Homo sapiens: one gene and its partners. The protein of the gene in region 4 interacts with the protein of the main gene of each other region in a pairwise test. Each region holds a gene or a part of one and is shown on either strand. Other genes may lie near its edges. The genes, in order: SPRY4, MCFD2, ANKEF1, CCK, ZBTB8OS, SPRYD7 and NFYB.

Evidence for each region.
Region 1: the proteins of CCK (region 4) and SPRY4 interact in binary tests that used the Homo sapiens proteins (3 or more experiments, as listed by UniProt).
Region 2: the proteins of CCK (region 4) and MCFD2 interact in binary tests that used the Homo sapiens proteins (3 or more experiments, as listed by UniProt).
Region 3: the proteins of CCK (region 4) and ANKEF1 interact in binary tests that used the Homo sapiens proteins (3 or more experiments, as listed by UniProt).
Region 5: the proteins of CCK (region 4) and ZBTB8OS interact in binary tests that used the Homo sapiens proteins (3 or more experiments, as listed by UniProt).
Region 6: the proteins of CCK (region 4) and SPRYD7 interact in binary tests that used the Homo sapiens proteins (3 or more experiments, as listed by UniProt).
Region 7: the proteins of CCK (region 4) and NFYB interact in binary tests that used the Homo sapiens proteins (3 or more experiments, as listed by UniProt).

The regions. Positions count from the first base shown.
Region 1 is NC_000005.10:142,314,832-142,318,921, forward strand, and holds part of SPRY4 (protein sprouty homolog 4), read right to left. Parts: exon of another isoform or gene 2,230-4,090; intron 325-2,229; coding exon of another isoform or gene 278-324; coding exon 1-277. UniProt on the Homo sapiens protein: Suppresses the insulin receptor and EGFR-transduced MAPK signaling pathway, but does not inhibit MAPK activation by a constitutively active mutant Ras. Probably impairs the formation of GTP-Ras.
Region 2 is NC_000002.12:46,909,241-46,913,330, forward strand, and holds part of MCFD2 (multiple coagulation factor deficiency protein 2 isoform A precursor), read right to left. Parts: intron 1,634-4,090; exon of another isoform or gene 1,540-1,633; intron 1-1,539. UniProt on the Homo sapiens protein: The MCFD2-LMAN1 complex forms a specific cargo receptor for the ER-to-Golgi transport of selected proteins. Plays a role in the secretion of coagulation factors.
Region 3 is NC_000020.11:10,033,411-10,037,937, forward strand, and holds the start of ANKEF1 (ankyrin repeat and EF-hand domain-containing protein 1), read left to right. Parts: upstream 1-1,576; 5' UTR 1,577-1,923; intron 1,924-2,168; 5' UTR 2,169-2,232; intron 2,233-4,527.
Region 4 is NC_000003.12:42,257,181-42,260,700, forward strand, and holds the end of CCK (cholecystokinin preproprotein), read right to left. Parts: intron 1,052-3,520; coding exon 918-1,051; 3' UTR 646-917; downstream 1-645. UniProt on the Homo sapiens protein: This peptide hormone induces gall bladder contraction and the release of pancreatic enzymes in the gut. Its function in the brain is not clear.
Region 5 is NC_000001.11:32,640,398-32,644,487, forward strand, and holds part of ZBTB8OS (protein archease), read right to left. Parts: intron 1-4,090. UniProt on the Homo sapiens protein: Component of the tRNA-splicing ligase complex required to facilitate the enzymatic turnover of catalytic subunit RTCB. Together with DDX1, acts by facilitating the guanylylation of RTCB, a key intermediate step in tRNA ligation.
Region 6 is NC_000013.11:49,915,391-49,919,480, forward strand, and holds part of SPRYD7 (SPRY domain-containing protein 7), read right to left. Parts: intron 2,832-4,090; exon of another isoform or gene 2,703-2,831; intron 2,075-2,702; exon of another isoform or gene 1-2,074.
Region 7 is NC_000012.12:104,135,411-104,139,393, forward strand, and holds the start of NFYB (nuclear transcription factor Y subunit beta), read right to left. Parts: upstream 2,801-3,983; 5' UTR 2,731-2,800; exon of another isoform or gene 1,799-2,730; intron 123-1,798; 5' UTR 44-122; coding exon 38-43; exon of another isoform or gene 34-37; intron 1-33. UniProt on the Homo sapiens protein: Component of the sequence-specific heterotrimeric transcription factor (NF-Y) which specifically recognizes a 5'-CCAAT-3' box motif found in the promoters of its target genes.

The DNA of each region.
Region 1 (4,090 bases), on a different chromosome or scaffold from region 4:
TGAAGGAGATCCAATGGTGGGTGACATCCTGGTCACAGCGGGCGGGCGTCGGGGCCAGCTCTGGGGCCCCGCCCCGGGTCCGCTTTGGGCCGGTGGTCAGGGCCAGGCTAGGGTTGTCTATGTAGTCATTCTCCACATGGCTGGTCTTCACCTGGTCAATGGGTAGGATGGTGAGTGGGTGCTGGAGCCGGCTGTGGGACATCCGGCTGTCAAGAAGGGGCTGGACCATGACTGAGTTGGGAGTCAAGGGGGCGCTCTGTGGGATCGGGGGCTCCATGGGGCTGGAGGTCCTGGACTGTACGGAGAAACAGGCTTCTAGGGGCCCTGGGGGTGGGGTGGGGAAAAGGAAGAGAGAATGGATTCCAGGCATCAGTATGTGGCCTGCCAATACCTCACCCCCCATCAGGTCCTTGGGAGCCGCCCAATTGACATAGGAACTAAAATCCCTCTGTGGACTTTCCAGTGACTCCCCAAGCTTAAGATGATTAATAATGACAAGAAGTCAGTGGTGGAAATAATACTACTGAGCACTTAAGATGGAGGTACTCTCCTAAGCACCATATGCATTAAGTCATTGACTTCATGATAAGCCTAAAACGTAACTACTATTATCCCCCTTTTCTATTTAGAGAAAAGACATGTTGAAATTAATTTGTCCAAAGTCACACAAAACTATCCAAAACTATCAGTAGCAGGACTCAAACCTGGGCAGCCTGAGTTCATTCTCTTAGTCACTGTGAAACATGCTCCTTATTTAAGACACATAGCTCAGTGGATGTAAACACAGGCTCTGGAACAACACTCAAATTTGACTCTCACTTTGGTCTAGCAATATTGCTATGAATGAGTTCTTTCATCTCTATGCCTTAGATTTTGGTTTTGTCATCTGTAAAATGGGCTCTTGCAAGGATTAAATGAGAAAATACTATCTATTACCTAGCATATTACCTGGCACGCAGCAACAATTTATCGCTACCCCAGGGAATAAGTTTAGATCTCCTGAGCACTTACAAGCACTGCCTGCCAAGCACTGTGCCAGGCACTGGGGACAATGTGGTGAACTCAACAGACAGCTCTGGGTGCTCCCATGGAGTTTATCAGCTGGATAAACAAGCCCTTTATTTCAGATATTCACAAGAGAAGGGCTGTATCTGATGCCTGCACATCCAGGATATTAACTTATTACTACCACTTCTTAAGAGCAGCAACCTGCAGTGGCTAATAATCCCTGGGTATGTGAGCTTCTGACAACTTGGATGGGAAATCCTCTCGAGGGGCACTCACATCACCCATTTCCAAGTGCTGAGCTGAACATTCAGCCTAAATGCTATTTACTAGAGTAGCTAAGCCAACCCTGGATCAGTTTCTAATTTCACCGAGAGAGTGCAATTTTAAGTTGGAATCCAGCCAGAGATTCAACTGCAGTGCCTGACACGGAACCCCAGGAAGTCACTTAAATCAAAGAGCGGAAACTGCTTGGTTCAAATTTAGAAAGTGCACATTGTTTTCTATTAGAAGTGCCATTTCCTTGCCTGCTGACCTTTACATTTGGAATTCTGCTGGAGATCAATTTAAAGAAATAGCAGCAGAAGGCCAAGACCTCTGCTCAAGGGGATACAATTTGGAATCCAAGGGAAAGATTACACTCTGGGAAGATTCCACCCCAATCTTAAGAACCCCAGGGAATGGGGAGGGAGGGTAAAAGAGAAAGATAAGTCTTTAAAACAAAACCAAAAAAAGGCCATTGCATTAATGTATTATGGGGTGGGGTTTTAGTAAATGCTTTTGCATTTACTAAATTTGCATCAAGATGCTAACGATGTTCTAATTAGGAGAGCTGATCCTGCCCCTCTGCTGTTAGGTTTATCTAGAACCTGTCTAAAATAAAAAGCTAGCTCTAGATAAAAGTTTATGAAGGGGATAAAAAGGGGGCTATCCACGGGGCTCCAGTATGTATATCACTTACACTGCTAAATCCAAAAAGCATCCAGTCTTTTCTGCGAGGTTCAATGCTCAGTCAACTGATATTTCCCATTCACGCAGGGCATCAACTATTGGCTTTGCTCCCATGGCCCTGCCTACTTAAAAGGATGCTGGTATTTCTTTACACGCCTTGTTTTTCCTGTCTTGGAGAAAGCCTACCTAGTGGCAGTGCCTGCCCCCATGTTCTCTTCGGATGAAACCATAGCATCACCTTTGAATTGGCGATTTCCTTGTGGCAGAGTTTACCTTAAGTGTCTGGCAGGTCTGCCACCAAAGAGTAGCCACTTGCCAAAGCAGCCTCCCCTGGAGATCCTGTGGTCAGGGCTGGAGAGAGGGAATGCAAGTAAGCATCTATGGAGAGGAGTTTTTCCAAGGATCAGGCTGATGACAACGTAGGAATTCCAGGGAATGCTACCTCAGCCTGCCCACTTATTCTCAATAGGTGTTCCAAAGCCTTGCTTCTAGAATAAATGAGTTTGGGGCAAGAGGCCAGGGTTAGGAGCCCAAGGTCCAGCACTGAGGACGCTGCCTGGAGGAAAGGGTGTGGCTTGGCCTAAGAATTAAAAATGCCACGGATAAGATTCTCCAGCACCAGCCAGAACCCTCACCCCCGGACAATGATAACATGAGTCCCTTGTTCCAGAAACCGATGTCAGGAATATTCAGGGTCCTGCCAACACAATGTAGGCAGCAGTTTGAAGCTTCTATTGCCCCATATAGTTGGGTTTTGTCTCTCAGGACCAGGATTGGGTCTGGTCATGCTGTGGAAGAAAGTAAAAGACTCCCTTTCCTTAAGCAGATTCACTTTTTTTTTTTTTTTTCATTTGTGAGGTTCTTTAAAAACAGCCCATGTCCTACAGATAAAGCAAAAGAAATGGGCAATGCTCAGAAATTTTAATAGGCCTTGGAATCAGAAAGCAGATTCCCCAATTCATGGAAAAGTCCCACCAGGAAGCCAGGATGGGAGCAGCCGCTGCAGGCAATGGGGATGTTGGCATTCACAGGCTCCCATAACCCTCCAGAGGCAGCTGTCAACATCTGGGCCTGCAGTTGAGGCCAGACATGGGGATGGGAGCTTGGCCCACGATGACTTGGCTCTCTGGGGACGATGCAGCATCCGATGGCTCCACTGGGCATATTCTAAAATGTATCTTCCCTATTATAACCCCGATGTAGTAGGATTCCTTTCAACCACCAGCTCAGCAAAAACCAAATCAGAGTTCCACTGCTGGCCTCACCCCTCACCAGCAGGGACCCTCCAAGAGCCTCTGCTGAATTTATGTGGCTGACAAAGGAAAACAATTTTCTGAGCTGCCTATTTAAGAACCCCTCAGCACAGCTAAATGATGTCTCAAAAAAAAAAAGAAAGAAAAAAAGAAAAGAAAGAAGGCCTGGCGCAGTGGCTCATGCCTGTAATCTCAGCCTTTTGGGAGGCCAAGGTAGGCAGATCACTTGAGGTCAGGAGTTCAAGACCAGCCTGACCAACAGGATGAAACCCCCATCTCTACTAAAAATACAAAAATTAGCCAGGCATGGTGGCAGGTGCCTGTAATCCCAGTTACTTGGGAGGCTGAGGCAGGAGAGTCACTTGAACCCAGGAGGCGGAGGTTGCTGTGAGCCAATATCGCACCACTGCACTCTAGCCTGAGTGACAGAGCAAGACTGAGTCTCAAGAAAAAAAAAAAGAAAGAAAGAAAAAGAAAAAACAACTCTCAGTTGATTTGGTAGATCAATCTCTACTCACTGAGAAACACCCACCCTCCACTCTGAGCAATGCTGACAATCTTAAGTGCAATTTAATATGTGCTCCCTGCTTCCCCTGCAAGGTAGTAAGAGATTTATAATATAAATAAGAGAGAGGAGGTTTTGCCTCATTTAAGCAGTTTGGAAGAGACTGATGGCCAATTTGGAAGACACTGGACAGAGAAACAAACCCAGCACTCCACTTAGCCAAAGAAGCACCTCTATCAAGTTTAGGTGGTACTCTTACGAACTGGCAAGAGGGAAGGGACTTTTACCTCCACTCAACCTTCTAATAATAATAAATAATAATTATGGAAGCGGCTAATATTTACGAAACATTTCTTGGTGCCAGGCTCCGTGCTAA
Region 2 (4,090 bases), on a different chromosome or scaffold from region 4:
TGACATGGTATGATCCTGGGAAACCTGATGAAGCAGTAAGGTTAGGAAGAGAGCTTGTCAAACACGGCCCAATGCCAGCTCTGCTTTGAGACTGTGGGATGACCCTGGGCACTCCAAGTCACTCAAATGGCAGGGGAAGGCTCACGAGGTTTCCTGAAGTGCCTGCAGAGTGCCAAGCAACACGTGAAAGCTTGAAGGGACTGGAAGATTATTCTTGCCTCCCAGAAGTTATGGTCCCCTGAAAGAAATATTTTCTATCAAGAGCACCAGGAAAGGCAGCCAGCAAGTTATATCAGATTATCAGAGAAAGCGAAAACCCTCTAGGAGTTCAGGGGAAGAAATCTCCTCCGAGTGGAGGAAAATCAGAGAAGGCTGATAGAGCTGGTGACACTTCAGCTGGGCCTGGACAGATATGCAGGGACTGAAGGACCACAGGAATGGTGGGAGCAGAGTGGCAGGTGCCCACAAGCGGGAAAGAAACTACAAGTAGTTCAGCTGGGCTGCAGCCTAGAGGGTAGGAAGCAGACAGGACAGAGGTGGCTCCAAGGCCTAGACAGGCTGTACTGGACAGGGCTTTGCACACTAGGCCAGGGCTTGACATCTCCTGCAGAGAAAGACAGGAGAGTCACTTACAATTCATGAATGGGAGGTGAGATCAGAGCTTGGTTTCAGAATGACTCATCTGGCAGCACAGTGGGGAAGGCATGAAGTGGCAAAAGCAAGACTAGAGGCAGGAGCATGGTAGCCAAGGGAGTGGTAAGGCGGGTCAGATCAAGGTCTGCGGCAGCGGACAAGGTTCTGTACCTCCTGGGTGGTAACAGTGGCAAGTAACTACAGTGAGCGGGCACTGGAAAGAAAAGTTACAGAGAAATCAGGATGCCATCAGGAACTCCCAGGGTTTGGCCACACTTGGAATTGTGGTCAATAAGATGACAGTCAGCTACAGAGCAAGCTCTTGGAGGGCAGGGAGAACTTTAACCCCACCAGTATTACCCGCCAAGGGTCAGGCAGGCCTTTAATAATTGTTGATTCAATGGAAAGTCTTGGTCTGTCCTAGGGCTGACAGACTGACCTCAAAAAGGAAGGTGAAGGACAGCCAGGTGACCTACATACAAAAACAAAAGACCTGACCGAACACTCACTTCCCAACAGGCAAAACAGATTCTGCTAGATAACAAGGCCAGGGATTTCTAACAGGTCAATTGTAGTCCACAGCCCCAAACCAGCAGTGGTAAAGACAAACCATAAGGCACTGGTCATCCCCTTTACATGCTACACACAGGGCTCAGCTCAGAAGCTGTAGCTGTCTTTGTGCCTGGGGCTGAGAGGTAGAGGTGTTATAGTCCCTCTTACCCATCCTAAAAGGCTCTCAGGGCAGAACCCTGAAAGTGTGAGTATGCCACCCTACAACACTTAGAAAAATTTCCCAAATCCGTTTTTCCCATTACCAGTATTGCTTCCCATGGCCCCCTCCTTAAAGGGGACAATAGTCACTGGGATGTCTAACTTCCAGGATAGGCCAGGCATGGTGGTTCATACCTGTAATCCCAGCACTTTGGGAGGCTGAGGCAGGAGGATCACTTGAGGCCAGGAGTTTGAGATCAGCCTAGACAACACAGTCAGACCCCCATCTCTACAAAAAATAAAAAATTAGCTGAGCGTAGCAGTGCACCCCTATAGTCCCAGCCACTCAGGAGGCTGAGATAGGAAGATTGCTTGAGCCCAGGAGTTCAAGGCTGAAGTACACTCCAGCCTGGGTAACAGAGTGAGACCCTGTCCTCCACCACCAAAAAAAGGAAGAAACTTCCAGGGTGCTAAAAAGCACCTAGAATCTAGTCTACTTCTAAACAGTGACATCAAAATGCAATCTGTCTCAGACCTTTTATTTTTTAATTTTTATTTTTTTGAGACAGAGTCTTGTTCTTTCGCCAGGCTGGAGTGCAGTGGCGCAATCTTGGCTCACTGCAACCTCCGCTTCCCAGGTTCAAGCAATTCTCCTGCCTCAGCCTCCCGAGTAGCTGGGATTACAGGTGCATGTCACCACGTCCAGCTAATTTTTGTGTTTTTAGTAGAGACAGGGTTTCACCATCTTGGCCAGGCTGATCTCGAACTCCAGACCTCAGGTGATCCACCCGCCTCGGCCTCCCAAAGTGCTGGGGTTACAGGCATGAGCCACCGTGCCCGGCCACCTCAGACCTTTTATATCTGTAGTTTAAAAAAAAAAAAAAGCAATATGTCATACTTAATAGGAAAGAATGCTCAATATATATTGAATGAAAAAGAACAGGCTGCAAAAAAGCAATAAAGAATAATACACTTTTGTAAAATAAAAATGTGTATTTCCTACACAAACTAATAACAAAGATTATCTTGAGACATGAGATTAGAATTGTGATTTTCAGCCGGCATGGTGGCTCGTGCCTGTAATCCCAGCACTTTGGGAGGCCGAGGCGGGCAGATCACGAGGTCAGGAGATCGAGACCACCCTGGCTAACACGGTGAAATCCCGTTTCTACTAAAAATACAAAAATAAAAATTAGCCAGGCGTGGTGGCGGGCACCTGTAGTCCCAGCTACTTGGGAGGCTGCGGCAGGAGAATGGCATGAACCCGGAGGTGGAGCCTGCAGTGAGCCGAGATCTGCTACCATTTTTTATGAATATGTATTCAATGTAATCTATCCCATAATTTTGTCCCAATACTATATGGATCGGATACAAAAGGAGTTTCCGGTTAATTCTTATCTCCACAAAATAATTCAGAAACAGTCAGAAACTACACTTCCAATTTTACCAAATAAAAGTGCCCAGACCTTGGCCAGGGACAGTGGCTCACATCTATGATCCCAACACTTCGGGAGGCCGAGGCAAGTGGATCACTTGAGGTCAGGAGTTTGAGACCAGCCTGGCCAATGTGGCAAAATGCGTCTCTACTAAAAATACAAAAAAAAATTTGCTGGGCATGGTGGCGTGCACCTGTAATCCCAGCTATTTGGGAGGCTGAGGCACAAGAATTGCTTGAACCCGGGAGGCAGAGATTGCAGTGAGCCAAGATCACACCACTGCACTCCAGCCTGGGCAAGAGAGTGAGACTGTCTCAAAAAAATTTTTTAAACGTGTCCAGACCCTGACAAGGCCACTGCCACTGTACCTGGTACCACAAAACAAGGTTTCAGGTTACTCCTAGCAGTGACTGCCTAGGCCATAGCAGAACAACTTGTTCTGACCACACATCTTAGAGTTCTGGGACAGGAAGGATCAGAGAAGGGAATCAAGCTCCTCCCAAGCCTTTCAGACTCATTTACATCAAATGTCTCTTTCTCCAGTGAGGTCTTTTCAATTCCAAGTCTGGTGTAGGTATTCGTCCTGCAGGCTCCCAAGTGCTTCCCTTCAGAAGGCTCCCGTCCACAGCTGATGACAGCTGCAAATTAATTCTTTTTTTTCTTTTGTTTTCTTGTGTGTGAATGAATTCTTGAAAAACTGCCTGATTACTTGTCAGTGCCCCTTGCTGGATGGGCTTTAAGAGGACTTGGACTGAATCCACATTCCCAGTATCAGGCACAGTGCCTGGAACAGAAGCTGCTGGTTCTTAGCCTGTGTGCCATGGTCCTTGGGGAGCTGGGGGGATTACCACCTTTGCAGATATGCTGCCAATTTTTAATGTCACTGTAACTGAAGATGAAACTTTTCTTTTGGAGATATCTATCATGGAACTCATGGCACCATTTCCTCCAACTATGTGATTGGATGCTTAGTATATCAATTTGGTGTGTGTGTGTTGGGGGTGGGGGAAATTCTATTTAGATAACACCAAAAAGCAACCAAGTGATTAATCATGTAGTAACTATGAGTCCAAAATATCCCTTCTTTAAGGGAGGTGGGATAAAGGCCAAGAATCACTGATTTTGAACTTGTCTCATTTTGGTTTGCTGTTGCAGGTTTCTAATCATTGGAATGCAACAAAAGCCAAATCGATAAACATAAAGAAAAAAAATTCCTCCAAGTGGTACACTGAAAACAGGGAATCGGGCTGGGCATGGTGGCTTATGCCTGTAATCTCAATACTTTGAGAGGCTGAGGCAAGTGAATCACT
Region 3 (4,527 bases), on a different chromosome or scaffold from region 4:
GACGTTGAAAGGAAAAAAGTCATCAAAACAATACACAACATTCTACCACATTTTTATAAATTCTCAAAATATGCAATATTAAACATGCATTATTTAGGGAGGCATTCAATGTAGCAATGCATTTTTAAGAGGCTGGGATGATAAATGTAAAATTCAGAACAGGTATTATCTCTGGGAACAGGAAGAGGAGGATGCAGTGTTGGGAAGAAATACATATAAGTACAGCAGTAGAGGCAGACTTTTTTTTCCTTTTCCTTTTTCCTTTATTTTTCCTAGCTTTCTTTTTCTTTAGCTATGGTATTTCTTTAGCTATGGTATGGTATGGTATGTACTTTCCATATATCATACAGTATATTTTGGTGTGCATGAAATAGTCCTTAATAACATTTTTATTATTTTTTATTTGACGTTTAAGTTCAGGGGTACATGTGCAGATTTGTTATATAGGTAAACTTGTGTCATGTGGTTTTGTTGCACAAATTATTTTCTCACCCAGGTATTAAGATTAGTACCCATTAGTTATTTCTCTTGATCCTCTCCCTCCTCCCACTCTCCACCTTCTACCCTCCAATAGGCCCCAGTGTGTGCTGTTCCCCTCTATGTGTCCATGTGTTCTCATCACTTAGCTCTCACTCATAAGTGAGAACATGCAGTATTGGGTTTTCTGTTTCTGCGTTAGCTTGCCAAGGATAATTGCCTCCAGCTCCATATTCCTGCAAAAGACATAATTTTGTTCCTTTATATGGTTGCATAGTATTCCATGGTGTATATGTACCGCATTATCTTTAGCCAGTCTATCATTGATGAGCACTTAGGTTGATTCCATGTCTTCGCTCTTAACATTTTTAAACAGTCTCTGAGTAGAATAGGGTAGGCTGGTGTAAGGAATTACTGTTTTTAATTGGAAGCAATTACATACTGCATTAAAAAGCATATATATATAGACACACATATATATGTTTTACATTCACATAATCAAACCAAAGCTTTCAGAATTTTCCGCCAAAAAGCATGTGTGGAGGGAGAGAGAGGGGTGTTATGGTGCATTTGTAGGCCCTGAAATAAAGTGATCTCCATATTTGCTTCCATTTGTGTATAAATATTTTTTAAGCATATATGCATCCTAGAGTATGGAAAGAAAATTTCTGGGAAGATTTGCAAGAATCTGTGGCAGTTGAGAGTAGGTTCACTTTCGCTTTATTGTGTAATTTATTGTATTTTTCATTTAATTGTACTTTGTAAACTAAATATTTATTGTATATTTTACTTCATTTTTTAATTGCCATATGCAGCTTTAATTTTATAACTAAATTACGTTCTGACCCAGGGCAGGAGGTGGGAGAAGAGAATGAGAGAAGGGCGGAATCCTCAAGACAGCAGCATTCTGCGCTCCGCCCTGGAACACCCAGCGCAGCTACCCCATCCCGCCCAGGCCGGCCACCTGGCGTCGAAGCCAGGCGCGAGGGGCGGAGGCGGAGGCGGGGGCGGGGGCGGAGGCGGAGGCGGAGGCGGAGGCGGAGGCGGAGGCGGAGGCGGAGGCGGAGGCGAGCACCGCCCCACCGCGCACGCTGCGGTTGCCCCGGCAGCCGCGCCCTGCGTGGCGGAAGCTCACAATCAGCCCGGTCCCTCCGGCTTCCACCCCGCCCCCTGCGCTCACCTGCCCGCGCGCTCGCCTTCCGGGGACCCGGGGCCCATGGACACATACACCCAGCCCTGCTGTCCCGCGCGCCAGCTCACCAGCCCTACCCAAGGGACATCATTCACGCCTGGGCGCCTCCGCCGGGCTCCGGGAGCCCAAGGTCGCGGCTGGGCCAGCGCTGAGCGTCAGAGGACGAGAGCAGGGGCCTCCCCGGTCGCCCCAGCAGGCCCAGGCACATAGGTGCCCAGAGATCCCTGGCTTCTGATCGCCCGGAAGACTAAGAGGTGAGCATGACACATGGCTTTTCCTTTGACGTTACATCTCTACCCCCTCCACTCCTCTCTTCTCCAGATTTTTCTGGAGACTAAAAAGTGGAAAGCACAGTAGAGAACCCCCAACATGTAAACTATCGCTTACACTTGTGGGTGAGCTGAAACCCGCAAAAGTTTGGTGTATTCATAAGGAGCCTATATTGAAGGACTTTGCTAAATGTTTTACAAGGATCATATCTCATTTCCTTTTCACACAGTCCCATGAAGTGGGCACCATTGCTATTGCCAGTTCACAGATGCAGAAACTGAGGTAAAAACTAGGTAGGTAGCATATCCATATTTATATCCAACTAGTTTGTGTAAATAATGATACAGGGAAGGGAGGATCACAACGGATTTCCCCACCTCAAACCCTACATTCCACTGTACCAAGCTTGTCTTCCTCCATTCCTCTTTCTAATGATCCTTCCTTGTCGCACAGCCCCCCTTTGAGAGTTAAATGACCTGAACACACACAGATTCCCACAGATTTTCATGTAATTTCCGAGTATTCAGACCCCGAACATGGACCTCAAGTCAAGACATTCTGCTCTATTCCACTACCTTGGTAGATGGTTAGATGTGACTAAGGTGGCCCAGGGTCATGCTGGGGAAAAGTACAGGTGTGCTTGTATGTGGAGGATCCTATATGCTGCTCAATTTACAAGGAACCCAGGACCCAAGGGCTACACTTGTGTGATTTCCTGCAGTGGGGTGAGCTCTTGGTCAGTCTTAGCAGTTGATTGTGAAGGACACTATACAGGGTGCTGCCCTCTCCCCAGCACTTCAGGGCTTTAGCTGGGAGGGAGGCAGTCCACAGGAAACCGACCCATGGACCTACTGAATTCATCACTGTAGCTGCTAATTAATTCTCCGTTAGAGATGGGTGCTAACAGAGGCAACATTGAAGTCCCTGATTGGGAAATCCTTATTTTCACAAATCAAGTGGCATTGATTCAGTCTAATCATTACCTATGTAGGAGCATCTTGCCCTATTCCATAGATGACACATATACATATGCAGTATGATGACACCGCACCTAATCGGAATATGGCCGATAATAATAAAACAAGCCATAAATAGCAGCTAAGGTGAGTGTCACCAAGCCGTGCAGCAAAGTCCAAGTGGATGACTCTGAGGCAGCCTCAGTTGGTTCCCTAGTCCACCGCATGTTATAAACAGATTAAAAGGCAAAGGAGGCCTGGCCCGGTGGCTCACGCCTGTAGTCCCAACACTTTGGGAGGCTGAGGCGGGTGGATCACCTGAGGTCAAGAGTTCAAGATCAGCCTGGCCAACATGGTGAAACCCTGTCTTTACTAAAAATACAAAAATTAGCCAGGTGTGGTGGTGGGCACCTGTAATCCCAGCTACTCGGGAGGCTGAGGCAGGAGAATCGCTTGAACCCAGGAGGTGGAGGTTGCAGTGAGCCGAGATTGTGCCACTACACTCCAGCCTGGGTGACAGAGTGAGAGTTGGGCTGAGGGTCGAGGGTCATGGGATAGGGCGAGACACCAGGGGAGTGTGTGAGGACAGAAAAGAGTCTTGAGGACCTAGCCCTGGGCACCCAACATAGGCTTCTTGAAATGGGGAGTCAGCAAAGGAGCCTGAGCAGGAGGGGGCATTGGTGTTGGATGGAAGCAGGCGATGGAGATGTTGTGGTGCCTAGAGAGACACATTTAAAGGAGAGAGAGCTCACTGCCGTAGAGAATGTAGGTGAGGGAGCAGGCTTGCGATGGAGAAAAATGGTGCATAGTTTCAACTTTTGTAGTAAGATGGAATCTTTTCATTGCAAATGTTGGAAACTTAGCTAACTAGCTTATACCAAAATAAGGTGACGGGGGAGAAGATGTATTTACCCACAAAGTGGTAGATGGCTTCTGGCACCATGGAATCCATGTTGCAACTAATGCCATCAATCTCAGTCTCTCTCCATCCTCCAAGCATGGACTCTCTCTGTGGCACCCAAGAGAGCTACCTGCGCCCCAGCCCCACACCATACTGCTTAACAACTTCAGCAGAATAGTCTTCCCTCATAGTTCTGGATGATGGGCTGCTGATTGGTTGATGTCTTTTATGCACATATGCTTGAGCTTCAGTGTACCTGGAAAGGGATGGTTCCCTCAAATGGGCCAAGCCTAGGCCACAGACGCTTTCCTCTGGCAGGGGACAGAAGGGACAGCCCCATCCAAACGACCCGGATAGGATTCCCTATGTGATAATGGAGTTCTTTTCTCATAAGAAATGAAGAAACAACTGGTCATACCTAGCATGGCCTGCTACTCAATCCAAAAGATTTTCCGTACAAGGAGGTAAAATTACATACTAGAATGCCCATCACAATTTAACAGGGAGATTGTTTATGAAGATTTGCAGTTTCCTTGCAGCCATTTAACTACATCTTTTCCACTTAAGATGACATAGGAATCACTCATCACATCTCTGATATGTTACAGAGCCCAGTAGATTTGTTTATAATGAACACCTCAAAATTATATGTTTTTATAACACCTTAAAACTATTAAAACCTGCATGATCTCTCTATTTTGCTGGTGTGAAACCATGTAGATAGATGGTGG
Region 4 (3,520 bases):
CACCACTGCAGCTCCAAGTGCGGTCTGCAACCAGCAGCATTGACATCACCTGGAGCTTGCTCAGGCTCCTGCCCAGACTTGTTGAATCAGAATGTGCAGTTTAACAAGATTCCCCGGGTGATTCCTGTGCACTCAGTTGGAGAAGTGCTAGAGTGATGAAGGTCCCGATAGCCTAGGAACATTAAGCCCTCCAGTCTGTGAATCTCCTTAGCTGGGGCATAAGGGGCAGTCACTTTCACTCTTCAGAGCCTGTTTCCTCATCTGTAAAGAAAGGATGATAACTTCTGTGCCACAGAGCCATGGAGTGATCAAATGTATGCAAAACCATGGCCAGTTACTGCCTGTAACTTGTTTAAAGGCCAAGAGAACCCCAAGGAAACCCTGATGGGAGTAGGATTGGTAAATAAGATCGGGGATCAGGGTGGCCAGGGCTGGGCTCTGGAGTTGCCCACAGATGGCCCTTTCACTGTCCACCTGGCCTGTAGCAAAGTTAGCTCCAAGTCTGAGCTGCATTTCCCAAGCCCTTTCTGGGGACATCTACTACAAGGATTTGTCCCAGTGTAGCATCTATCAGGCTTCCCTCCTTGCATGTTCTGAGGACCAAATGGAGCCCTTTGCCCTCAGTAGACGCAGGGAACGACAGGGCAGAATGAAATCACTTTAATAGCATAACAACATTTTCAGACCAGGAGTCACAGATGAAGAAAACATTTTGTCTTCCATTTGCACAATTCTGGTGAGGTGTGTGGTTGCACTGGACAATCTTACAGACACATTTTTCACATTGAGAACTTAATAAATAGATACATACAATGTCAAACTCCACAGACAATGAGTTATGAGTGTGATTGTTTTCTTATTCTGCCTCCTCTGGGTTGGGAGGTTGCTTCCCGTTGGGCTGATGGCGGCTGGGTCCTCTAGGAGGGGTACTCATACTCCTCGGCACTGCGACGGCCAAAATCCATCCAGCCCATGTAGTCCCGGTCACTTATCCTGTGGCTGGGGTCCAGGTTCTGCAGGTTCTTAACGATGGACATTCGTCCAGAAGGAGCTACAAGGAGCAGGGAGGAAGGAAACAGGGACATTGCATCTAAAAGCATCTCTAGTTCAATTTGGGAAGGAGAGCAATGGAAAAAGCCAGACGCAATATAACAGACACCACCTTAAAGGTATCAAAGAGCTATCAAAGTAGTGGAACTGATGGACCAAAATCTGAGAGAGGAGAAGGACCAATGTCTGTGTAACTGGAGAGAGGACAATATATTTACAAGTTAGGGGTGTGCTTTGCGTTCTGCAAGTATTTAGGTGGATTCATTTTCTCTAGCCTTGCAGTCTGGGGACTTGCCTAGATTTTCCTTAGTCTCCCTACCGTTTGCTTTCTTTTGGTAGATGGGTGTTTTCCTTTTGTAGATGGCATCAGCAGAAACCAACCAAAGATTTTTCCAGTACTTAATTGTTCCTAAATTCATCCCTTAATATCCATCAACATTCCTGACTCCTGGAGAGCTCTTGTTATTAAGGTGGCACAATTATAATATCTTGATGTTGGAATGGTTAAAAAAAAATCGTTGGTGGGAGTGTAAATTAGTTCAACCATTGTGGAAGACAGTGTGGCAATCCCTCAAGGATCTAGAACCAGAAATACCATATGACCCAGCAATCCCATTACTGGGTATATACCCAAAGGATTATAAACCATTCTGCTATAAAGACACATGCACATGTACGTTTACTGCAGCACTATTCACAATAGCAAAGACTTGGAACCAATCTAAATGCCCATCAATGATAGACTGGATAAAGAAAATGTGGCACATTTACACCATGGAGTACTATGCAGCCATAAAAAGGATGCGTTCATGTCCTTTGCAGGGACATGGATGAAGCTGGAAACCATCATTCTCAGCAAACTAACACAGGAACAGAAGACCAAACACCGCATGTTCTCACTCATAAGTGGAAGTTGAACAATGAGAATACATGGACACAGGGAGGGGAACATCACACACCAGGGCCTATCGGGGGGTGGGGGTTAGGGGAGGGATAGCATTAGGGGAAATACCTAATGTAGATGACTGGTTGATGGGTGCAGCAAACCACCATGGCATGTGTATACCTATGTAACAAACCTGCATGTTCTGCACATGTACCCCAGAACTTAAAGTATAATAAAAAATAGATAAATAAAGCTCCTTTGCTACATAAATACTCTTTTAAAAATATGAATTTGAAAGTTATATTCAGAAAGCTTTTGTCATTTATCAGTAAGTGTTTTGAGTTGATGATCATTTTATTTTTAATGATAAATCAATATCAATTAAAAATGATATTCAGAAAAAGACTGTCGGATTAAATCTTGGCACCTCAGTAAGACTCAAAGAAGGGGGGGAGAGAGGTGATAACAAAGGTGATTTAAATCAGCAATTTTGACCAAAATGCAATAACTGAACCTGAAATTGTCCCATTGGGATGGAAGTTAAGTCTTCAGGAACAGTGTGATCCTTTTGTAGAGCTCACACTGAGTGAGCAGGGACATGAAGAGGCAGTTTATTTGGAGACATGAGACAGTCCTAGCTCAAAGTTCATAGACAGAAGCCTCCTGGGGTATGAAATCAGCAGAACACCTTCTCCTGTGCAAGCTCAGTCTTAAGAAAGGCCCTTCAGGGACTTCAATGGACAAAGCCCAGGCCAAATCAAGGGTAGAGGAGTGGAGGACCACTCAATGACTCCCACTGTGTTGGGGGCCACTGTATCCCCACCTCCTGTCATGCTGGTCTATATCCCTTCTGCATGAGGCTGCCCTTGCCAGCTCCTACCCATAGGCTGAGTAGAGTCAGACTATGGCTTATGTGTTGATAAATGAAAATGCAAAGGCAGTTACCCTGGGTAATGAAATTAAGCAAGTTTAATTAAAAACAGAAACAACACAGAACAACGTCCCCACCCTTTCTCTCCCCAACCCCAACCCTTCCCAGTTTTGGAACCAACAGTCAATTCAGCACATTTCAGGTCTTTTTGCAGATATCCTCAGCCTACGTAGAAGAAAAATAGCCCCTGCTATTTAATTGTTCATCATTCAGGTGAAATATTACCCTTGAATTCAGGAAAACCTATAGACCCAGTTACCTGTACACAGTCACATGGAAACATGACCCATCCTTCTGCCTGCTGTGATGATGAGTGCCCACTCTAAGGCCTGGGCACAACCCAAATTTCCATCTAATGGAAGCAAGGTGACAGCTTCAATACGAGCAAGCAGCCTCAGTTAACGGTGGGGGCACCATGTTCAGTCATGGAAGCTGCATTTATCACACACCCTGACTTCCCCGTTCCACGTACAGTTCTGTCCTCATGTCATGTGTATTTACCAGGGTCCTCACTCACTTTCCCAGTGCTGACATAGAGTAGGGGCTTACATCTGATGTATGGAATTGATCAAAGCCTGATTCCTATGGGCCACAAGAGATGGACGGGCCTCCCTCTGAATCACACAAAGAATTGGAAGGGGCTTATTGGAAAG
Region 5 (4,090 bases), on a different chromosome or scaffold from region 4:
GCCAAAACATGGTAGTTTTTTCAACGTTAGTTGCAATGTGGATTCTGTAACCATCACAATGAACTTACCATATTGTAAAATTAAAATCCATTGATCTATTATGCACTTAGAATGAATCTTTTTGTTTTCTTTTTTGAGACGGAGTCTCACTCCGTCATCCAGGCTGAAGTGCAGTGGCACAATCACAGCTCACTACAGCTTAGACCTCCAAGGTCCAAGTGATACTTCTGCCTCAAGTCTCCCAAGTGGTAAGGACTACAGACACGCACCACCACACCTAGTTAATGTTTTGTAAGAGACAGGGTTTTGCCACGTTGCCCAGGCTGGTCTCGAACTTATGGGCTCAAGCCATCTGTCCCCCTTGGCCTCCCAAAGTGCTGAGATTAAGCTCATCAGGCCTGAAAATTTTAACTGGACTTGAATTTTACCATTATCAACAAATATTGTCAGCTATTTTCCTTGATGTGACAGATCACTGTTCACTTTCAAGGGTGTGGAGGCCCACACCTGTAATCCCAACACTTTGGGAGGCCGAGGTGGGCCGATCACCTGAGGTCAGGAGTTCAAGACCAGCCTGGCCAACACGGTGAAACCCTGTCTCTACTAAAAATACAAAAAAAAAAAAATTAGCTGGGCATGGTGGTGGGGCCTGTAATCCCAGCTAATCGGGAGGCCGAGGCAGAAGAATCCCTTGAACCTAGAAGGTGGAGGTTGCAGTAAGCCGAGATCGTGCCACTGCTCTCCAGCCTGGGCAATAGAGCAAGCCAAATACTGAAGTCTGAATAACAAAAGCATGTCTTTCATTCTTTCAAGAAAAAGTGTTCCATGAAAAACGGACCTAGTTCAGCTCACAACTCAATTACACAAGTTTTTTTTTTTTTTTTTTTTTTTTTTGAGACAGATTTTGCTCTTGTTGCCCAGGCTGGAGTGCAATGGCGCGATCTCAGCTCACCAAAACATCTGCCTACTGGGTTCAAACAATTCTCCTGCCTCAGCCTCCTGAGTAGCTGGGATTACAGGGATGCACCTCCACGCCGGGCTAATTTTGTATTTTTAGTAGAGATGGGGTTTCTCCATGTTGGTCAGGCTGGTCTCGAACTCCCAATCTCAGGTGATCCACCGCCTCGGCCTCCCAAAGTGCTGGGATTACAGGCATGAGCCACCGCGCCCGGCCAATTATTGTTCTTTTCCACAAGTAATCAACACTTAACATGCCACAAAAGTACTTTATACAGGCCGGGCACGGTGGCTCACACCTGTAATCCCAGCACTTTGGGAGGCCGAGGCGGGCGGATCACGAGATCAGCAGATCGAGACCATTCTGGCTAACATGGTGAAACCCCGTCTCTACTAAAAAATACAAAAAAAAAAAAATTAGCCGGGCATGGTGGCTGGCGCCTGTAGTCCCAGCTACTCAGGAGGCTGAGGCGGGAGAATGGCGTGAACCCGGGAGACGGAGGTTGCAGTGAGCCGAGATTGTGCCACTGCACTCCAGCACTCCAGCCTGGGTGACAGAGCGAGACTGTCTCAAACAAAACAAAACAAAACAAAACCTTTGTACATACTTCCAATTTTGTTACATAGAATATTATGACAACTAAACTCTGATTTTTTTTTATCTTGCCCAAATTCCTATCTAAGGGGTTTGGGGAGTCATGCCCTACAAATCACAAATTCTCTTCAGAAGTATTTTATTTAACCCTATACATCGTGACTTACTTTCTAACCTGAGTCTGGCATAAAATTACAAGATACAACACAAGGAAGAAAATCAAAATATTTTACCCCAAAGCATGTTTCTTTGCCATATTTTGAAATGGCCAGGGCCGGGCGCGGTGGTTCATACCTGTAATCCCAGCACTTTGGGAGGCCAAGGCAGGCAAATCACCTGAGATCAGGAGTTCAAGACCAGCCTGGCCAACGTGGTGAAACCCCGTATCTACTAAAAATGCAAAAATTAGCTGGGCGTAGTGGCAGGCACCTGTAATCCCAGCTACTCGGGAGGGTGAGGTAGGAGAATTGCTTGAACCCAGGAGACAGAGGTTGCAGTGAGCCAAGATGGTGCCACTGCATTCCAGCCTGGGTGACAGAGCGAGACTCTGTCTCAAAAAAAAAAAGAAAAAAAAAGAAATGGCCCGGCAAAGCTGTTCTTTCTGGGGGAGAATTTGCATCCGTAAAGAATCTCTATTAACATAGCTAGATCTTTTTCTTCCAGACCCTCCCAATCCTAAAGATGTTAACTAACATCTGAATAGGAAACATTTGTCTTCTATTGTCTCTAAGGGCAGCCACTATAGGACTTCAAAAGAACTTTGTTCTCCACAATCTTTTATCTTAACCAGAACATTCCCTTTCCATCAATTCTAGGTCTTTTTTTTTTTTTTTTTTTTTCAAATGGAGTTTCCTCTGTCGTCCAGGCTGGAGTGCAATGGTCCAATTTTAGCTCACTGCAACCTCCGCCTCCCAGATTCAAGGGATTCTCCTGCTCTCAGCCTCCGGAGTAGCTGGGATTACAGTCACGCGCCACCACGCACGGCTAATTTTTGTATTTTTAGTAGAGACAGAGTTTCACCATGTTGGCCAGGCTGGTCTCAAACCCTTGACCTCAGGTGATCTGCGGGCCTCGGCCTCCCAAAATGCTGGAATTACAGACGTGAGCCACCGTGCCTGGCCTTTTTTTTTTTTTTTTTGAGATAGAGTTTCGCTCTTGTTTCCCAGGCTGGAGTACAATGGCACGATCTCCGCTCACTGCAACCTCTGCCTCCCAGGTTCAAGCGATTCTCCTGCCTCAGCCTCCCAAGTAACTGGGATTACAGGGATGCACCACCACGCATGGCTAATTTTTTGTATTTTTAGTAGAGACGGGGGTTTCTCCATGTTTGTCAGGCTGGTCTCGAACCCCCGACCTCAGGTGATTCACCCGCCTTGGCCTCCCAAAGTACTGGGATTACAGATATTAGCCACTGCACTTGGCCTTTAGTTTTTGTTTTAGTTTTTGGTTTTTTTTTCTTTAAAGAGATGGGTTCTCACTGTCTACCAAGGTGGAGTACAGTGGCACAATCATGGCTCACAGCAGCCTTGACCTCCTGGGCTCAAGAGATCCCTCCTGCCTCAGCCTCTAGGTAGCTGGGACTGTGGCCCAGGCTGGAGTGCAGTGGCATGATCTCGGCTCACCACAACCCCTGCCTCCCGGGTTCAAGCTATTCTCCTGCCTCAGCCTCCCGAGTAGCTACGACTACAGGCGTGCACCACCACACTGGGCTAATTTTTTGTATTTTTAGTAGAGAGGGGGTTTCACTATGTTGGCCAGGCTGGTCTTGAACTCCTGACCTCGTAATCCGCCTGCCTCAGCCTCCCAAAGTGCTGGGATTACAGGCGTGAGCCACCATGCCTGGCCCCAGCTAATTTTTTTTACTTTTTTTTTTCTTTTTCTATTAAAAAGATGGGGGTCTCACTAGGTTGCACAGGTTGCTCAAACTCCTAGCTTCAAGTGATCCTTCCACCTTGGCCTTGTTGTACCCAAGCGAGTTAGAAAAACGCCACACTTTGAGACAAATTAAGAGTCTTTTATTAGCCGGCGACCTAGAGACGGCTAATGCTCAAAATTCTCTCGGCCCCAAGGAAGGGGCTTGATTAACTTTTATACCTTGGTTTAGGAAGGGGAGGGGGGGTCTAGTTAAAACAATTTTACGGAAGTAAAGTAGTCAAAAAGTTAAAAGGACAAATGGTTACAGGAAAGTAAACAGTTCCAGGTGCAGGGGCTTTAAGACTATTACAAGGTGATAGATCCGGGGCTTTGGGCGTTTATCAATCGGACGAATTCCTGGGAACTGCGGATATAGCTTGCCACAGTATCTTATCAGTTAATTGCATTCTTGGATGTGCTAGGAGTCAGCTTGCACAAGTTAAGTCCTTGAGGAAGGGGCTGCCAGTGAAAGAGCCAAGATGGAGTCTCTCTGGCTCTCTTAGCTAAGGGAGAGTCAATTCAGGTGGAAACAAGACTAGGTGATTAAGGGAAAAGGGAGAGTCTAAAAACAGAGTTAGTAAATACCAGGTTGGGCATTACAGCCTCCCAAAGTGTTGGGATTAT
Region 6 (4,090 bases), on a different chromosome or scaffold from region 4:
ATTATTAGTAATTCTCTCAAGAGGATGTGAATATGGGTAATTTTTTTCTTATTTGCTTATCTGCATTTTCTCAATTTTATATAATTAAGACATATTACTTTTTAAAAAAATGTTTAACTTTGAAAAAGTATAGATTCACAGGAAGTTGCAAAAATGTTAAGAGTCCAGTGCACCCTTTGTACACTTTGCCCCAGTGGTAACATCTTACATGACTACAGCTCAACATCCAAACCAGGAAACTGACATTGGTACACTACTGTGAACTAGACTGCAGGCCTTACTCAGCTTCTAAATGTTTTTACCGGTATTTACTCAAGAGAAATGAATGTGTATATCCAAAGACATATTTTCAAACGTTCACAATAGCTTTATTTGTAATAGTCCCACACTGGAAACAACCCTAATGTCCATCAACTGGTGAAGGATAAAGAAATTGTGATATATCCACACAATGCTACACTTCTCAGCAATAAAAACTGATGAATTATTGATATATGCTACAGCATAAATGAATCTTCAAATAATTGTGCTGAGTGAAAGAAGCCAGACCAAAAGAAAAGACCATATGATTTTGTTAATATAATACTCTAGAAAATATGGGCTAATCTGTAGTGACAGAAAGCAGATCAGTGGTTGTTTGGTTGGGGCTGGGGTAGGGAGTGGTGAGTAGGATATAAGAGGCAGAAGGAAACCTTTGGGGTGGTGAATATGTTCATTACCTTGACCCTGGTGATGACAAAACAAAACATGACCGTAAAGCAAAGCAAGTAAATAATCAGCACTGCCACCCAATAGTGATTACTCCCCCTGGGTGAGGAATGCAGCTGTGGTGCGGGCTGCATCTGGGCCAAGAAAATGTTCTATTTCTTGATCTAAGTGGTAATAATGTGAGTGTTCACTTGATAGCTATTTGTTAAATTGCACATATAAGTTTAATGCACATTACTATATACTTTATATTTCAGCATAAATGCAGAAAAAAATGTAAATACTGGATTTGACATTCATGAAGTCACCAGTGATTTTAACAAGGGTGGTTTCAATTAGTGGTGTAATGGCAGCTGAATTGGGTTGCAGAACAAACGAACAATAACAATAAAGGTGTCAAATGCTCTACCCTTGAGCTAGTCAAGTAATCTATACAACAAACCCCCCACCGTGACACCAGTTTACCTGTGTAACAAACCTTCACATGTACCCCCGAACCTAAATGTTAAAAAAAAAAAAGAAAGAAAAACAATAAAGATGGCAGATATAGGTTATTCTAGAAGAAATGTGGCCATCCAGGGAAGGGGAAACACAGGACTAGTGAGGGATGCATGCCCAAAGAAGGGCGTTTGGGATGGGGCTTAGAATGTTTATAAGCACTGAAGAGGGAGGCCCATGACATGAGATATCGATGAAATAACTGACAAAGTGACGTTCCAGATTTGGGGAGTTTGGAATCCAGACTACAGATAGAGTGTTTGCAACATGCAGAGTACCACTTCTGGGATGAGATGGAAAGAAGGCAGGATTGGACCTGAAGAGAGGGAAGCTGGAGTTCACTTGTGATTGCCTGTTTTTTTTGTAAGGTAGAAGGCAAGGCATTTTCAGAGGATGAATAGAGAATGCAAGAAGCACAGAATGCATAGACATGCACAAAGAATTGCTGAAAATTATTGAGAGCTCAGATTAGGCTAGAAGTCATAACTTTGTTTTTTTTTGTTTTGTTTTGTTGTTTTCTTTTTTGAGACAGAGTCTCGCTCTGTCACCCAGGCTGGAGTGCAGTGGCATGATCTCGGCTCACTGCAAGCTCCGCCTCCCCGGTTCACGCTATTCTCTTGCCTCAGCCTCCCAAGTAGCTGGGACCACAGGCACCCGCCACCACACCCAGCTAATTTTTTGTATTTTTAGTAGAGACGGGGTTTCACCCTGTTAGCCAGGATGGTCTCAATCTCCTGACCTCGTGATCCGCCTGCCTCAGCCTCCCAAAGTGCTGGGATTACAGGCGTGAGCTACTGCGCCCAGCCAGGAAGTCGTAACTTTGTAACCACACTTCTTCAGTGTTATGCAGTCTTTTTCTTTCTACAGGCTGAGTGTAAGAAGAGACAAAATGAATGATTGGATTGATCAAGGATTAGGGATGGAAGACAAAAGAGTAAAGGGATTTAAGTTTTATGTTTATCTTTGATAGGATCAGGCTATTAAAACACTTGGTTTAATTGGACTGATTTATGAGTTCAATTTATGAAATATAATTTAGTATCTATAACCTTAGTACATTACAAATAATGCTGAATAAAAGAAACAGTTTAGAGCATTAAACTTATTTGCTACAGTTAACTTGTATAACTGTCACTCTACTGATATTTATTTTATTTCTCAGGCTAACCTATTTCAAATATCAAGCTAAATTTCCATTTACTCAAGTAAATAAAGGAATTGCTTTTAGGCTTACCCAATATGCAACACTAAATTGAGTTTTAAAACACACATTTACATGCAAGGACACAGAAGGTAAAATGACTGAAAAGTAATTTTAGGAGAAAAGAAGGCTAATGAAAACCTTAAACTAAAAGGTAATCACAAGCTTTGGCTATTATCATATTATTATTTATATTTGTTATTGTATAATTCTGACATCCCAGTTTGTCATCATTGATACTGCTATTTTTATTTTAGTATTTTAATTTTATTTTGCTTTTGAGACAGGGTCTTACTCTGGTGCCAAGGCTGGAGTGCAGCGGCACGATGATCACTGCTCACAGGAGACTTGACCTCCCCGGCTCAAGAGATCCTCTCAGCTCAGCCTCTCAAGTAGCTGGGACTACAGGCACGTACAACCACACCTGGATAATTTTAAAATTTTTTGTCGAGACGTGTTCTCACTATGTTGCTCAAGGCTGGTCTTCAACTCCTGGACTCGAGCAACTCTTACCTCAGCCTCCCAAAGTGCTGGGATTACAGGCATGAGTCATTGCACCAGTGCTGCTTTTATAGTAAACTACAACAAATGTAATTAAATTAGTTCTTTTTTTTTTTTTTCTTTTTTTTGAGATGGAGTCTTGCTCTGTCACCCAGGCTGGAGCACAGTGGTGTGATCTCGGCTCACTGCAACCTCTGCCTCCTGGGTTCAAGTGATTCTCCGCCTCACCCTCCTGAGTAGTTGCGATTACAGGTGTGTGCCACCACACACGGTTTCACCATGTTGGCCAGGCTAGTCTTGAACTCCAGACCTCAAGTGACCCACCTGTCTTGGCCTCCCAAACTGCTGGGATTACAGGCATGAGCCACCGTGCCTGGCCTAATTAGTTATTTTTCTTTCTTTTTTAATTTTATTTTATTTTATTTTTTTTTGTGGAGACTAAGTCTTGCTCTGTCGCCCAGGCTGGAGTGCAATGGCATGATCTCGGCTCACTGCAACCTCCATCTCCTGGGTTCAAGTGATTTTCCTGTCTCAGCCTCCCATGTAACTGGGATTACAGGAGTGCGCTACCACGTCTGGCTAATTTTTTGTATTTTTAGTAGAGATGGGGTTTCACCATGTTGGCCAGGCTGGTCTCAAACTCCTGACATCAAGTGATCCACCGGCTTCGGCCTCCCAAAGTGTTGGGATTATAGGTGTGAGCCACCACGCCAGTCCTAATTAGTTCTTATTATAACCCAAATTTAAGAACTTAAATGAGAAAATATTTTTAGACTTACAAAACCAAAGGCAGAAAAATCATATACCTGTTTACTTAAAGTTGATAATACAAAATAGGCTGGACACGGTGGCTCATGCCTATAATCTCAGCACTTTGGGAGGCCGAGGTGGGCAGATCACTTGAGCTCAGGAGTTCGAGATCAGCCTGGCCAACATGGTGAAACCCCATCTCTAGTAAAAATATAAAAGTTGGCCAGGTGCTCACACCTATAATCCCAGCACTTTGGAAGGCCGAGGCGGGCAGAACAGAAGGTCAAGAGATCAAGACCATCCTGGCCAACATGGTGAAACCCCATCTCTACTAAAAATACAAAAATTAGCTGGGTGTGGTGGTGCGTGCTTGTAGTCCCATCTACTCGGGAGGCTGAGGCAGGAGAATCGCTTGAACCTGGGAGGCGGAGG
Region 7 (3,983 bases), on a different chromosome or scaffold from region 4:
AATCTAATTAACAACCAAAATGGTAAAATATACTTACTGTCATGAAATACTGTCAGAACCGTGTTGTCAGTGGTGCTGAAGAACACCTATCTAAAAAGGTGTCTAATCTTTGTGATTTCAACCTAAAAGATAAACATCTATTAGGACCTAACATCTATCAATAGTAAAAATACATCAAATGTATCACTTATAGGCTTTTTTTCTCATAAAATTAAAGAGGGCTTGTATAATTTTGACTACTATTCTTAATCAATGGAGTACATGGTATAAAATAGTATAAAAAGGCACCCAATAAATGTTTGTTGACTTGAAAGATTTATTTTGGAGAACTTAAAAACAAGTTAATTCCATGGGGAAAGGAGAAAATGGATTTTCCAACATAACCCTGAATTTAGCCATATTCATCATAAACATTCATTACAATACACCAAAAAGGGACCAAATTATATAATATGCAAGAGACCAAAAATTATACATCTAAATTACTTAAAACATTAACACTCAAGATGCAAACACACCCCTTATCATCTTAATTTTTTGGTGATGGTTTTCTTAAATGTTTCAGAGTAACATTTAGACATTCTATAGCTCAAGAGGAGGAAAAAATTATCTGAGAATATAATGCTTTTCAATTAAGAATCTCAGATTATACTGTAATGAAGATACATTCTGCACTGAGAAGATATCAAAAAAGCAACACAATCAAGACCCTTATTTATAATTTTGAAGCACCACCATTTTTGACTAAAATTGCATCGAAATAGCACTTCAGTCTCACTGTAAGGCATAAATAGCTGAACAAATTAGTACCAATTGCTGTGTTACAAGTTTCATTTCTCATTTGCTCCATTCTTTCTCAAAGGAAACAATTAAATGGGGGAGGGGTAGGATGCCAAAACAAAAACACATCCTTTCAGTGTTAATTTTAAAGGGAGAAGATATACTGATACGCATCCAAGCATGAAATCTAGCAAATAGCAGAAAAAATTGTAGCCACTGAATTGAAAGTTTTTAATGCCACTAAAAAGGTCCAGGTAGCAAAAACTGCTTGACGTTTGCTATAATATTAAAAGTAATTTATAATTTCTTTTCAAATATTAATAGTATCCTCTAACCCCAAAACTGCTCAGAAAAGTCCTTCCTTGTAACGAGAAATGTTATTTTTTAAAGAGTGTCTTTGAAAAAATAAGCCCTCAGAACACTTAAAACATGGGAGCTATATTTATGTATTTTGCTTGGAATGGGAGAGGGGGGTGTGGGCAGGGAGTCATACCACACCACACTCACTCACCCAAATAGTTGATTCAGTATATATTTAGACTCAGTACATTAAAGAAAAACACTGTCACCTCATATGGTGTATATTTTCTTAAGGGCAGGTTGATATATGTAAAAGCTCAAGGGAATGCATACATCTGTTTAATGTTTTAAGAAATGCAAATTTGTATCCAAGAAAAGCAGTAGTCCCTTCCTCCACCCTCCATTCTTTGGCATCAACAACCAGAGTTTTGCATCAATATACAGTAATCCTTAAATTAAGATACAAGAGCAATGCAGGGAAGGAATAATTTGCCTTTTAAGGAATTTTGGTTAAACTTTCAATACTTTACAAATAAACCCCCCACTGATTAGTGCCACTGATATTGATCCGTTTGCTTTCATCACTTTATGTTGCTGATTAGTTTCCATACTAAGAGAGATGAAACCACCCCAGTGATTTGTAGCACGAACCACGCAACTATGGGGTCCATGCGGGTTAGTGGGATGCCATTTTTTTAAAGGTCGCAGGCTACCTAACCTTGTTTAAATTATCCTGTTAGAGTGCTTTGGGCGAGATTACGATTTGTGGGTGCTCTGTAATTCTTTGTTCTCTAAGACTACCGTTCTTTAAGGCCCTGCATATCCTCCCGCCTCCCACCACTAATGATTAAAACCTTAGTCCAATCCGAAGGGCTTCCTTCCCACCTTCGGGGCAAGTACAGGGACCGCAAACCGCCAGATGGCTGCATTCTTTACGCGCAAACCAGGCTGCGGGGAAGCTAAAGCCATGCCTTCCTCCCCACGCAGGTGCCTGGGTGGCCCCGGCCCCACGGCCTGGTCCCGGCGACCTGTCAGCCCTGCGAGTGCCAGGAGGCCGCCCCCAGAGCGCATCCCCTGACTCGCCCGGCCGCCCCGGCCCCGCGCCCAACGCCTGCCTCCCACCCGCCGCGCGGCCCCCGGGATGTGCGGGCAGACAAAGCGCCGGGCCCCGCCACAGCCCCGCGGGCGGGAGGAGGGCGCCCCCGGGGACTCGCGCCGCCGCCGGGGCTACGGGGCCAGGGCCCGGGCCGCGTCTCCCGCCCCTCGGCCGGCTCCCCGCACAAAATGGAGCCGGCCCGGGACGCCGTCGAGAGCGGGGCCCCGACGCAGCCCCGCGGCCCCTCCTCGGCCCCGGGCCCGGAGCTCAACGGCGGCGAGGGTGAGGTGGCCTGGCCCGCGTCCCGCCGCTCCTCAGCCCGGCGCACAAAGAGCCGCGCCGCGGCCCCGCGCCCGCTCCCCGGCCCGGCCCGCTGCGGGAGCGGCCTCGCAGGCGCGGGGCCCGGCCTCGGCCCGCGCGGGAGGGCGGGAGGCTAGTGCCCCCGGCCGCGGCGGCGTTGGCGGCGGGGACGGCGCCGGGAGGAGACGGACATTTCATTCGAGCTAAAGTGGAGTCGGTTTAGGAGCGATCATTGGCCGAAGCGAGACACAAACCTCCAATGCAGCCCTGGTTGGCTCCCGTCTCCAATCGGCTGTTTGGTTGGACAGAAAATGGCTGCGAAGGAACCAGTCCCAGCGCGGAGCTCCGCTTCCAGGACTCGGCCTCCCCTCCCTCCGCCGCGGGCCGCTTCCCTCGGCGCGACACCCTCCCTCCGCGCCGCCCGCGCGCCCGCCCGCCGCGGCCCCGCCCCGCCCCGCCCCGCCCCCGGCCCCGCCCCGCCCCCGGCCCAGTCCCGCGTTCCTGTGAGGCCTCCGCGCCGCTCCGGATGCCGCTCCTCTAGGCGCGAGGTCTTCCAGGGCCCTGCCCGGGCGCGCCGTTCGGGTCTAGGCGGGCCTCCTTCCCGGTGCTGACCCGGGCCTGTGCGAAGCGGGATCTCTCGGGCGTCCCTCTCTTTGTCACCCCTTCCCCCGCCACGTGGAGGTGCCTCAGCCGCCTGAGCTCAGCCTGCCTGCGCCTGGATTTTTAAGAAGGGGAAACCAAGGACAGAAGCCGCCCCCTAGGACGACGCGCCCGAGCCACCGGGAGGGTCTGAACGGCGGGGGCCTCCTGGAGCGCCTTCAGCGCCTCGTGTTTTCTTTCCTTGGGTCCCTGTTAGCGTCGCCGCATGCACAGCGCTCCCTGTCATTTGGTCCCTGAGCTTGGGTGTTTTTCACATTTCATCTAAAGATGCAGACCCCTGCTAAGTCTAGCCAGCCTTCACCCTGAATCTTGAACTTAAGATGCTGCATTTTCCACCCACCCCCACCCCTCTAGTAGCTGCAGATTGACAAGCGGCTTTTCCCAACCAGATGACATTTTGGCTGCAAGAATCCGTGGCCCGTTCTTGCCTCTGTGCAGCCAAGCTCCTTCGCTGTCTTTCTCAAACTGCAGTCCTGAGTTCAGCTTCGCTTAGCAGTGACCATCCCAGAGGTGGGTAATCCAACACTGGATCCACTCACTGCAACCGGAGCTGGGGATGGCATGCCCTCTGCTTCCACTAACCGAGTGGCCTGCACCACATTAAACTCTCCAGCTTTGATTATGTAAAAATACAGAGATCTTTTATTTATAGAGTTCCTACTGTTTCTCAGAGTATTTAAACATTTCTGCGGCAAGTATGGAAGAAAAGACAAATGAAAGCCCCAAATTGTGACAAGAGGAGTAAGTAGCAATGCCACTGTCATCAGACAACCTGACTTGAATTCCAACTCCCCTTCTTACAGGCTTGTGATCTTGGCCAAATGTCTGCTTCTCAGGGTTGTTTGGG